Homo sapiens: one gene and its partners. The protein of the gene in region 3 interacts with the protein of the main gene of each other region in a pairwise test. Each region holds a gene or a part of one and is shown on either strand. Other genes may lie near its edges.

Region 1 (3,752 bases), on a different chromosome or scaffold from region 3:
CTTTAGGATGAGATTTCTCAGCCTGGGCACTGCTGACGTTCTGGACTGGATCGTTCATGGCCAGGGGCTGGGGGTCTCGGTGAGACTGTCCTGGGCACTGTAGGGTATCAGCAGCCTCTCTGGCCCTTACTTGCTGGAGGTCTGAGCCCCTGCCAGGTTGTGGCACTGCCACCCATTCTCTGTGGGGGCACGTTCCCCACACCAGTTGAGCAGCACTCCGTCTGGAGGTGCTTATGTAGAATCCTGCTCCGCAGCTGATGGAGTGCTCCCCAGGCAGCGCTGCCCAGACGCCCACTGCCTCTTCCTGCGGACTTGGTGGGCCACCATGTACTGTGGTTTCTGTCAGCTGTGCCAGGATGTTTTGTGTTCACTTCTGACTTGTTTGTAATGATCACTTTGTACCCCCTTTCTGGTATCTTTCCATTGACATTTCCTGGTGCAGTTACCGATTTCTTCTGTTTTCAGGGAGCACTGGTTTGCCAACCATTTTGTGCATTGTGTGCAGCATTTAGCACAACTACTTATTTTCTGTTTTACAAAGTAGAATGTTATGAAATTCTTGTTCTTGCCTCAATTTCCCACCCTTATTTTGACTTTAAACTTGGAACTTCCTCTGCATTTCTTTACGAGGAAAATACATGGTTCTTTTCTGCAAAAACATCATTTAAAACAACTGTTATACACGGTAGTTTTTTAAAAATCATAATGTGTGATGTCTTTTGTCCTGGTGTCTATGTTTAGTAGCAGCTCATCAGATACAGTGTGTGTTTGGGCTTGTCACTCTGTCCCTTGTCGCCAGTTGAGTTTCTTGCTTACAGTACAGTATTATAATTTATTATTTGAGATAAAAATTTTTGTATTATACACACATCTGCTACAAATGAGCTTTTTTTGGTTCACAAACACAGTTCCTCCACCAATTCTAAAATCATTTAATATTGACTTTAATAATGGTACCTTTTTCTAGAAAAGCACTAATTGTTTTTTTTTTTGTGGGGGGGGGTCTTTTTTAGGGAAAGCTTCCAACGACAGGAATGACAATCACAAAGCTTGAGGACAGTGAAAATCATAGAAATGCATTTGAAATATCAGGTGATAGGCACAAGCTGTGTGAGTGCTGTGTCTCGGGGAGGAGAGGCAGCTTGTCCCCGCGTGCAGATTCTTGCTTGCGTATTTCAGAAGGTGGTGTTTAAGCGCTGAGTGGAATTCTGGGGGGTGTGCACGCACGTGCTTTTTACCTGTGTTTCCACTCGGCCTATTTTTTCCTTCTCTCCTATAGGGAGCATGATTGAGCGGATATTAGTGTCGTGCAACAACCAGCAGGATCTGCAGGAATGGGTGGAGCACCTACAGAAGCAAACGAAGGTCACGTCTGTGGGAAACCCCACCATAAAGCCTCATTCAGTGCCATCTCATACCGTAAGGACTTGGTGCTTCTCCTCCTTCCAGACTCCAGGCGTGGCATCCCGTGGCTGAGCTGTCAGCAAGTGATCAGTTGCTTTAAAACCTAATCAATATTTGGATAAAAAGTGCAAAACACTTGCTTCACATTTCTCTGCAGATCTTTGGCCCTCTTCGTGCAGTAGTGAATTGTTTTCCAATGAGTGTTCTCGAGAAACAACCCTGAATTGTGCCTCCTCACGCACAGTTCAGAGGTGCTTGGGTGGGAAGCTGCTTCTGCTCCGTGTGGCCCTAGAAGACTGATTTAGGGGAGTTTTACACTCAACTATAGATGATTTTTCTGAGAATTTTAACTGTTTATTATGCTTCATTTAAGAAAACAAAAAATAAATGATTATGATGATGAAAAGGGCCAGACTCATGTTGAAGGCATTAAAAGAATTTATGACACACTGTTGATTTTAAGAAATTGAGGTGTCTTTTACTTAGAAAAGCTCAACAAGTCTTTGGATATTTAGAGACTTTTTTTTTTTTTTTTTTTTTTTTTTTTACAACTTTTCAGAATAGATGAACACTGAAGCTTCAGTGTTTAAACCTCTCCTGGTGTTTTGTGCTCAAGAAGTTGGTATCGGGTTGTTTTAACAGTCGTCATCTTTATCAAGTAATACGGAAAAACTGGGCAGAGCTTTTAAAGAATGAATGACGATGACACAGGCGTTTTCTGCTTACAGATTTCCTCACATCCTTATTAGGCTATTAGGATCAGCTCTGTCGTGTGCTCAGTTTTCATGTTTTCTTCTTCATGTGAAGGTTGTAGCTCAAGAAGGATTGCTGTACTCTGATATTCTCATCAGAGTTTCAGAGTCCATCTGATTTCTTTCAGCAGTAAAGATTGTAACTACTCATTGGCTTTTAGCTAGCATTTCATTTTTAATGGCTCTACCATTTTAAAATTCTCCATTCTTTCATGGAGATCAGTTTATCCCAGGGACGTGTGTGTACACGTGTGTTTATAAAGAACAGTGGATGAGCTGCTTCACTCAGGTTTTCAACAGCAGCCTGAAACTCTACTTCATACAATTTTATATCAAGTCAGCTTTTCTCTGTGGCCAGACCCTCCGTCTTAGTGTTTCTTTCACTGGTGGCTGGGAAGGCATCCCTTCAGCGGGGAAGGCACTGTGCCTCATGTTTAAAATGTTCTGCATTCTCCTACAGAGTTTCTTGTGTGGGATGATGTATTCTGTGATCCAACTCTGACCAGCTGAAATCATTTTCTAATTTTAGCATAAAGCATACTTCCTTTGACTTTTTCAAGAAAGGAGAAACAAAACCAGACACTGCTTTGACGTTGTTGCTAGAAGGGATGTCTTACATAATTTTATCCATCTATACATTATTTCCTATGAAAAGATGACCTTACAGTGGCTTCATAGCATGACCTGCATCTCACACAATTCCCTCCCCCATGCAGGGACTAGAATGTGATCGTTGCAGGAAGTTGATGGCTTCTATTCTTGAAATTGTGGCATTAGCTGCCGTCCCTCTCAGCCTGTGTTTTGAAGGTCGCGCACTTCCTCAGAATGCCGGCCCCACTCCGTTTCCAGTTCACAGCGCCACACAGCTTGTTCTCCCATTAAATGCACCTTACTATTGTTGGCTAATTTGAGGTCATTATTGGCTGATTTTGAGAATGACTTATTTAACTTTTCTCATTTAACTGTCATTGTGATGGAATATTTTGGGTTTTCCAGGAATATAAAATGCATTAATGGCACACCGCTCTAAGAAGTTAATTTTTGATTAACTTTGTTTTGATTAAAGTTGAGTTTTCTAAGAACATAATTGGTTTTAATACCAGGGTTTGGCAGTGTTCAGTAAAGATCCAGATGGTAAACGTTCTCTGCTTTACAGGTTCAGGCCTCTTGCAGCTGTACTCTGCCCTTGGAACACAACAGCAGTTTTAGACAGGCACAGGCCTGCCTGTGTGCCAGGAAAACTTTTTTAAAAAACAAAACTAGGCGATCAGGCCTTAGTTTCGCCCAGTACTTTATCACCAGGTGAAGAATAATACGTGGCTGGGGGGGAATCACCTTCCTTCTTACAGCCACATGCCCTGTGTGCTTTTGTGAAATTCTCATCTTTTTACTAGATGAAGTACCTTTTTTCTATAAATGTTACTCCGTAGCTAATAAATGTGGCTAGTGGATGTCTTTTGAGTGCTGGGGCCCCAGCTAGAGCTGCCCCTCCTGTCTGGGGCAGACGCCGTGAGGAGCCCCACGCTCGGCCCAGGTGGCGCGAGCTAGTGTTTGGCCCCAAAAACTGACTGCTGAGAGCCAGAGATACGAATGAAA
Region 2 (3,752 bases), on a different chromosome or scaffold from region 3:
CGCCCACATTTTAACCTGGGTCCCTATGAGGACATAAGGCACGTGAGGCATGCAGTCCTTGAGCTCGGGGACCCATTCCTCCTGGACATTGTGGTAAGAGGCAGGGTTTACGACAGAGAAGCAGATCAAAAACACATCCGTGTTGGGGTAGGAGAGTGGCCTCAGCTGGTTGTAGTCCTCCTGTGGGAAGAGCAGACAAGGGTTTGTACAGCCTGTGTAAGGTGTGTCCCATGTAGTTCCAAGGTCAGATTTCAGGTAAGAGTCCACTACAGCGCACTGGGATCCCGTTTCTTCCTCAACCCTGGAATCTGGTAGTTCTTTCTCTACTAGAACTAAAGGAGCCATCAGTCAGAAAAATACCTTTTTGTTACGTACAGAGATTATGTATTGCCCCTTCTTAAGATGAACTTAAAATATTTTTAGCAGTTTTATTGAGATATAACTTATATACCTACCTATATATACCATAAAGTTCACCCATTTATTTTTATTTTTAAATTGTATACATTTAAGGTGTACAACATGGTGTTTGATATACATATATATGCTACAGTGAAACAAATTAACATATTCATCTCCTTACAGCTTACCTTTAAAAATATATTTTACGGTGAGAGGACCAGAGACCTACTCTCTTAGCATATTTCCAGTATGCAATATAGTATTATTAACTATAGTTATCATGCTGTATATTACAGCTGTAGACTTATTCACCCTAGCTAACTGCAGCTTTGTACCCTTGATCAAAACCTCCCCGTTTCCTTTCCTTACTTGCCTCTGGTAACAATAGTTCTACTCTCTGTTTCTATGTATTCAAAAGTTCACCTGACCAGGCACAGTGGCTCATGCCTGTAATCCCAGCACTTTGGAAGCCAAGGCGGGAGGATCACCTGATTCCTTGAGCTTGAGATCAGCCTGGGCAATATAGCGAGACCCTATCTCTACAAAAAAATACTAAAATTAGCTGGGCATGGTGGCACACGCCTGTAGTCCCAGCTACTCAGGAGGCTGAAGTGGGAGGATGGCTTGAGCCTGGGAGTTTGAAGCTGCAGTGAGCCGTGATCATGCCACTGTACTCCAGCCTGGGCAACACAGCAAGACCCTGTCTCAAAAAACAAACAAAATAAAACAAAAGACCAAAAGTTCACCCATTTAAAGTGTAACATTCAGTAAAGATTATTGCAATTCTTCCATCATGTTGGAATTGTGTTATATTGAATATACTATATTTAAATTAGTGAGCTATTTGCCAAGGCAACAGGAATCCTCTCCTCACACGATTAAAAAAAATTATATCCAAATTTAATTTAGAATAAATGAACTAACATGCAAAACAAGAGTTATTGCCAAATTTGACACCACAATATTTGAAGAAATATGTTGAGTGAGGGTTTAGAGCTAAGAATTTTGGATTTGTTTCAAGTATTACTTAAAGGCCAAATAAAATGCTGGCTTAATTATTTTCTTTCTAAAGATTTTTCAGAGCAGAATATGCTCATGGAAGAGTTTCTGGTTACATAAGATATTTATGTATTTGCTATTTTAGTGGGAGTTGATAAATACAAAGTAAAACTGCGCATCATTTCGACTTTGGGAAAATGTTGGCAAGGGCTTTTACTGTATGTAAAATGTTTTAGGAGGTTCCACGGTAAAACCTGATATTTCAATAGAAAGTTTTATATGTTTTTATAGAATTTAGTAACACATAAACAGACAGTAACTTTGTGTGTAAGCGTGCATACACATACCATATTTATATATACATCACATATCGCAACATGACATGTGTCCATACACACCATACATAATTTGTATGTGTATACACACTATATATGATGTGTGTGCACTATATATGTGTGTATACTATATGTGCAACTAAACTTATATGTTCACACCTATGATATACATGTATTCATAGAGATGGGTTAATAAATAATTAACTCATTTATTAGGGGCATGACTACTCTTCATGAAACATTTCAGAAACTTACAAAACATGTATGTGCTCATTGCAAAAATGCAAACATTGAAGAAGTACACAGAGTTGAAGTGAAAGCTTGTTTTCATCCCTGATATGATGTCTAATAGTATTTCCTCTCCCCAGAGGGAGCTACTGCTTAAACATTGTCCTTCCAAACATTTTATTTTACTTTATTTTATTATTTGAGATGGAGTCTCAATCTATTGCCCAGGCTGGAGTGCAATGGCGTGATCATGGCTCACTGCAGCTTCAGACTGCCGGGCTCAAGCGATACTCCCACTTCAGCCTCCCAAGTAGCTTGGACTACAGGCACATGCCACCACACCCAGCCAATTTTTATTTTTTTTGTAGAGATGGGGGTCTCACTGTGTTGCCCAGGCTGGTCTTGAACTCCTGGGCTCAAGCAATCCTCCTGCCTCAGCCCCCGCCAAAGTGCTAGGATGATAGGCGTGAGTCACCATACCTGGCCCATTTTATATTTATGTATGTATACCACATACACATGTTTAGTTTAAAAACAAATTGATTAAATTGTTCATATTGTTGTGCCACTTGTGTTTTTTAAAACAATATATCATGGATATATTTTTAATATCAACCTTTCTATTGACTCTAATAATATATTTATTAGATAACGGGTTGATGGGTGCAGCAAACCACCATGGCACGTGTATACCTATGTAACAAACCTGCACGTTCTGCACATGTATCCCAGAACTTAAAGTATAATAAAAAAAATTTTAAAAAAGACCAGAAAAGGAAGTACACACATGTGCACACTACATACACATGAGACTGAAAGGAAGTACCTTAGAATGTTAAGTATGGTCCACTCCTGTTGGTGGGCATGCATTGATCTATTGTTTAGCTACTCAGAGTATGCAGAACACGGGACTCAGTATATGTGGCCACTACTGCTACTACTATTAAAACTTAAGCACAGGTTTTAGGTACCTAATGCAAAATGCAAAGCAAGAGGGCAATGATGCTGAAAAGTAAAATCCTAAAAAATAAACCCAAAACAAAAAAAACCCCCACTATTGTGGCTAATTTACCACATTTCTAGTCAATAATTGGGAGTTGGGTGCACAGCTGAATAATCACTGGTCATACTGGGAAGTTGTGCCAGGTCTACTGGGTTGCATCTCAGCCAAGTTGTGCCTATGTCTGTGTGTGTGTGTGTGTGTGTGTGTGTGTGTGTGTTTGTGTAGCTGGTGAGGCAGTGGAGAAAGGGATAGCTAAATTCTTGGCACTACCCTCTCCTCTTTACACAACTAGCTCTGAAAAACAAACCTCCTCTTCCATGGTCTCCCCACTTCTCTCTTTTCTCTCTGGAGTGTTCCCTTAAAGAGCAGCTGTAAGGCCCGTGAGCCAAGAAGTCTCCTTCCCAGGCTATAATCTACAGCTGTTCACCACACCACCTGCCCTCTGCCACTGCATGCTCCCATCTGGATTGTCATAAATGGAGTAGGGACCATGTTGATTTTTTTCTCATCCCTACAGGTACTCTTTCCGCAGTAAATATTCAATAAATGCTATTGACAGACTGGAAGAAATGACCTCTACAGTGACCTGCAAATGAACACGTGGCACTTCTGTGGGCCATTTATTGCAGTGACTTTTATTAGAATCACCTGGGGAGCTTTTAAACCATCCTGAAGCTCTGCTAATCAACTCCTTGCTCCACCCCCTTTTCTACTCTGGAACCAGCTAAATTAGAATCTCTGGAGAGTGGGCCTGCGTATCTGGGAGTTCTGACTTAATTGGTTTG
Region 3 (3,752 bases):
TTTTGCAAATGGCCCAGTGAAAACCGCACTGACCTTTACACCTTGCTCATCCCAGAACAGGGCCACGGTGTTGTCACCAACAGGAATGGACCTCCTTCTGTTCCAATACCTCAGACAGCCATACACTTGGCCTGGATTTGAGTCTGCAAAACCATGAGGGGAGCAAGACTAACATGGCTAAAGGCTTCCCTGCTGAAAGCCGTTTTTTAAAAATAGCACTGCAACCGCCCCCATCATGCTTCCCAAAGCCAAGCCACTCACCCTTCTCTCCTTCGCTTCTACAGACCAACAGCCCAGAACCCTCAAGTCTAGAATCTGGAACTGGATTCTGAAAGGTGGGACCAAAAAAAAAAAAAAAAACAAGTGGGGCCTCTATCTCTCTCCTTGCCTGCATCCCCCTCTTCCCACCATCCCCCACCCCACCCCACCCCTTAACCACCACCTAGGGAAGGAAAACTTGCCAGAGTAAGAATCTAAAATGTTCAGTTCACCCAAAAGTGCGGCAGTAATCTTGCCAGAGCCAGTTCACAAACTGAGGGCAATGTCCCCCAGCGAGCTAAGGGGAACAGGAGAGAAGGAGAGGCAGTGGACCCAATGACACTGCTCCCCAGACAAAGAGAGGGCCAATCCAGGGACCCTGAGCTTTCTGGGGGCGTTATTGCATCATTCCAATCCCCACAGGAGAAGAAAAGGGTCCCCCTGTTATTACCATCCCCCCACCAAAAAAAGGGGAGGGGGATAAAGAAAAATAAAAGAAAGAGGGGAAGGCGCCCGTTTAAGAAAATCGTCACTTTTTCTCTTTCCTCGTGTGTGTGTGTGTGTGTGTGTGTGTGTGTGTGTGTGTGTGTAAGGGGCGGGGGGGTTCTACCCCGGACTTGGCCAGACCGTGGCCACACCCCCTCCCCTTTTCTAGGGAACTGCTGTCACAGCTACTGGGGCTGGGTAGGGGGGCGGGCGGGGGGGTGAAAGGGAAGACTTACAGGCTGACGTAGCTTTCAAGGCGGGTTTTGCCTCAAGCGGCCCAGGCCCCAGTAAACGAGTCTAGGGTTTGACCAAGCGAAGGAGCCCCGGCCCTCTGGGAACGGCCCTGACACACCCACTTGTCCGCGAACTGGGATCATGCAAACTGCTCGCTTGGTCTCAGGGCTCCGGGGAGCCACGTAGGAGACTCGAGGCTGGGGCACAAACAGGACAGGAGGGGGGTCCGGAAAGGCAGAACATCTGCCCAGCAGCCTTAAAGCATCATCCAACAGCCACCCCCTCCCCCGCGGTAGCCCGGGTGCAGTTAGTCGCGGGATTTACCTGCCACGGATCCAGCCACCCCGTCAAGACCTTTCCTCTACCTCCGAGCGCTCCAGCTGGCGGGGCTGGGGAGCCGCAGCCCCGCGGCCGCAGCCGCAGCCCCGGGCCCAGCCCGCTCCCCCTGGCTCTTCTCCCGCCCCCGCACACTGGCTCGAGGCGGGGAAAAGCTGCAGCCCCCAGTGCGAGATCCCAGACGGTTAGCTGGCACAGCTGCCCGCCCGCGGTAGAGCCCCTGCTCGGCAACCGCTCCCTAGCCCTTCTCTGCTATTACGTCACCCGAGCTCTGCACCTTACCTAGGCCAATCAGATGGTGAGCATAAAACTAAAATCGCCCTGAGTGGGCTACTGGGGACCAATCTTTTGTTTCCAGGCAGGAAGCGCCTGGGAGGGGGAAAAAACTGAAGGGGAGGGAACATGGAGAGGGAAAGGGAAAGGAGATGGAAACTTCTACACTGTCAGGGTTGTCTAGACAGAGGTGGGGCCATCAAAAAAGAGGGGCACCTGACAGGATGGAGAGGAGGGGAGAGTTCATGTATCTTCCTTAATTGCTCCCCTCAGGAGAATTGAGATTTCAGATGAATTTTCAGGGGACGAAATCTGTACAGCTACACGGGCACACTTTATTCGGGGGAAAAAACGGTTTCGATTTGGGACACCACCTGTCAGCCAGGCAGGTTAAACTGACGGAATCTCTAAAATACACAGAAAACTAAGAGAGACAGATGTGGCAGTGGAATTCAAAGAGATGGCAGTCTAGATCGGGAAACTACTTTTCTGCATATGAAGCACACACATTCCAAAAAGCAAGGAATTATACAAAAAATAAAAATAACTCTACTTCAAATGGAGCTTAAATGCGATTCTCTCTGTCCATCCTTTCCCTTAAACCTTCAAAGCTTTCTCTTGTCTTTAGGATACGGTTCAAATTTTTGCAGATGGCCAAAGCTTTATAAAATCTAACTCCAAAAATAATCTCTTGCTACTCCAAAATCCATACTCCCCATGATTTGGCTAGATTATGTAAATTATGGTGAATCCCAGCAAGGCGACAGTAAGCTGCCATAAAAAGTCAAATAATACAAAACAATAAGGACATTCAAATTATAATGATGTAAAATATGCCTACAGAAAACGATCAGAAGAGGACATAAAATTGTAACCGTTGGGTTAAACTAGTAGTATTATGAGTAACTTTTTCTTTCTACTTTCAAATTTATTTTCATAAAGATAAATATATCCTCACATACTTAAATGGCCAAAATAGATCATGACCCTTCCCAGTGAACTTTTATTCAATTTTCTCCACACTGTGTAACATCCAGCAATAATTTCTCCATAATGCCAACAAAATAGGTTTCAAGAACAAGAGTGAACTAATATATCTGCCCAGGTCCTTTTAGTAAAAGTCGTACAAAAGAGCTACAGATGACCACACGCGGTGGCTCACACCTGTAATCCCAGCACTTTGGGAAGCCCAGGCGGGCGGATCACCTGAGGTCAGGAGTTCAAGACCAGTCTGACCAATATGATGAAACCCCGTCTCTACTAAAAATACAAAAATTAACTGGGCATGGTGGCATGCGCCTGTAATCCCAGCTACTTGGGAGGCTGAGACAGGAGAATCACTTGAACCCAGGAGGTGGAGGTTGCAGTGAGCCGAGATTGCGCCACTGCACTCCAGTCTGGGCAACAAGAGCAAAACTCCGTCTCCAAAAAAAAAAAAAAAAAAAAAAAAAGAGCTACAGATTCGCCAGACAAAACATCTCAGGCAGTTGAAGAATGGGATGCCTCTTTTGGACTGATTCATTTTAAATTGTGATGATACAGGGAATTGAGAAAAACAACAACAATGATCCACTCTATGCCAAAACAAGAAAGAGGGAGGCAAAGACTAAGTAAACGATGTAATCCAGACCATTTTTAAGGGTCAGTTTGCATTTTATTTTCCTAAATTCAAAATATATATATTAATGCATATATGAGTATTACATTAACATTGTAGAAAGTGGTAGAGCTGGGATTTGTATCGAAATGAGTCCAAAGTCCATGCTTTTTCTAATATGATACAGTTTACTACTGCTAAGAATTAAATGTGGTATTACTGGTTTTGTTAAAATACATACTTGCTTTAAAAGAAACAGACTATATAAGATTGGCATTTTTAAAAAATCAGGCATTTTTAAAAATAGCTTTTTTGGTGTCGTGGTTGTCTTTAATGCAAAAATATACAACACTCTTTCTCAAATCCTTCATTAATAAGTTGGAATCAGGATGGTTCTGACTCCAGTGATTTTACAGATATCTTTTTAACTAACTTTGGAGTTAAAAAAAAAAAGCAACCACATCCCACTGGTTTTTTTCTACACCATGGTAAAAATAATCTAAAAAAATCACAAATCAAAATGAATGTAATTTATTCAATGTTAACATCTCTGATTTGTAAAATGCAT

What was found.
Region 1: the proteins of PAK3 (region 3) and ARHGEF7 interact in a two-hybrid assay, tested with the Homo sapiens proteins (one study listed by BioGRID).
Region 2: the proteins of PAK3 (region 3) and RHOJ interact in binary tests that used the Homo sapiens proteins (3 or more experiments, as listed by UniProt).

The regions. Positions count from the first base shown.
Region 1 is NC_000013.11:111,279,259-111,283,010, forward strand, and holds part of ARHGEF7 (rho guanine nucleotide exchange factor 7), read left to right. Parts: intron 1-1,013; coding exon 1,014-1,092; intron 1,093-1,279; coding exon 1,280-1,419; coding exon of another isoform or gene 1,420-1,476; exon of another isoform or gene 1,477-1,866; intron 1,867-3,752. UniProt on the Homo sapiens protein: Acts as a RAC1 guanine nucleotide exchange factor (GEF) and can induce membrane ruffling. Functions in cell migration, attachment and cell spreading. Promotes targeting of RAC1 to focal adhesions. May function as a positive regulator of apoptosis.
Region 2 is NC_000014.9:63,277,399-63,281,150, reverse strand, and holds part of RHOJ (rho-related GTP-binding protein RhoJ), read right to left. Parts: intron 181-3,752; coding exon 16-180; intron 1-15.
Region 3 is NC_000023.11:111,093,966-111,097,717, reverse strand, and holds the start of PAK3 (serine/threonine-protein kinase PAK 3), read right to left. Parts: upstream 1,528-3,752; 5' UTR 1,303-1,527; intron 1,176-1,302; exon of another isoform or gene 981-1,175; intron 329-980; 5' UTR 262-328; intron 144-261; 5' UTR 34-143; intron 1-33. UniProt on the Homo sapiens protein: Serine/threonine protein kinase that plays a role in a variety of different signaling pathways including cytoskeleton regulation, cell migration, or cell cycle regulation.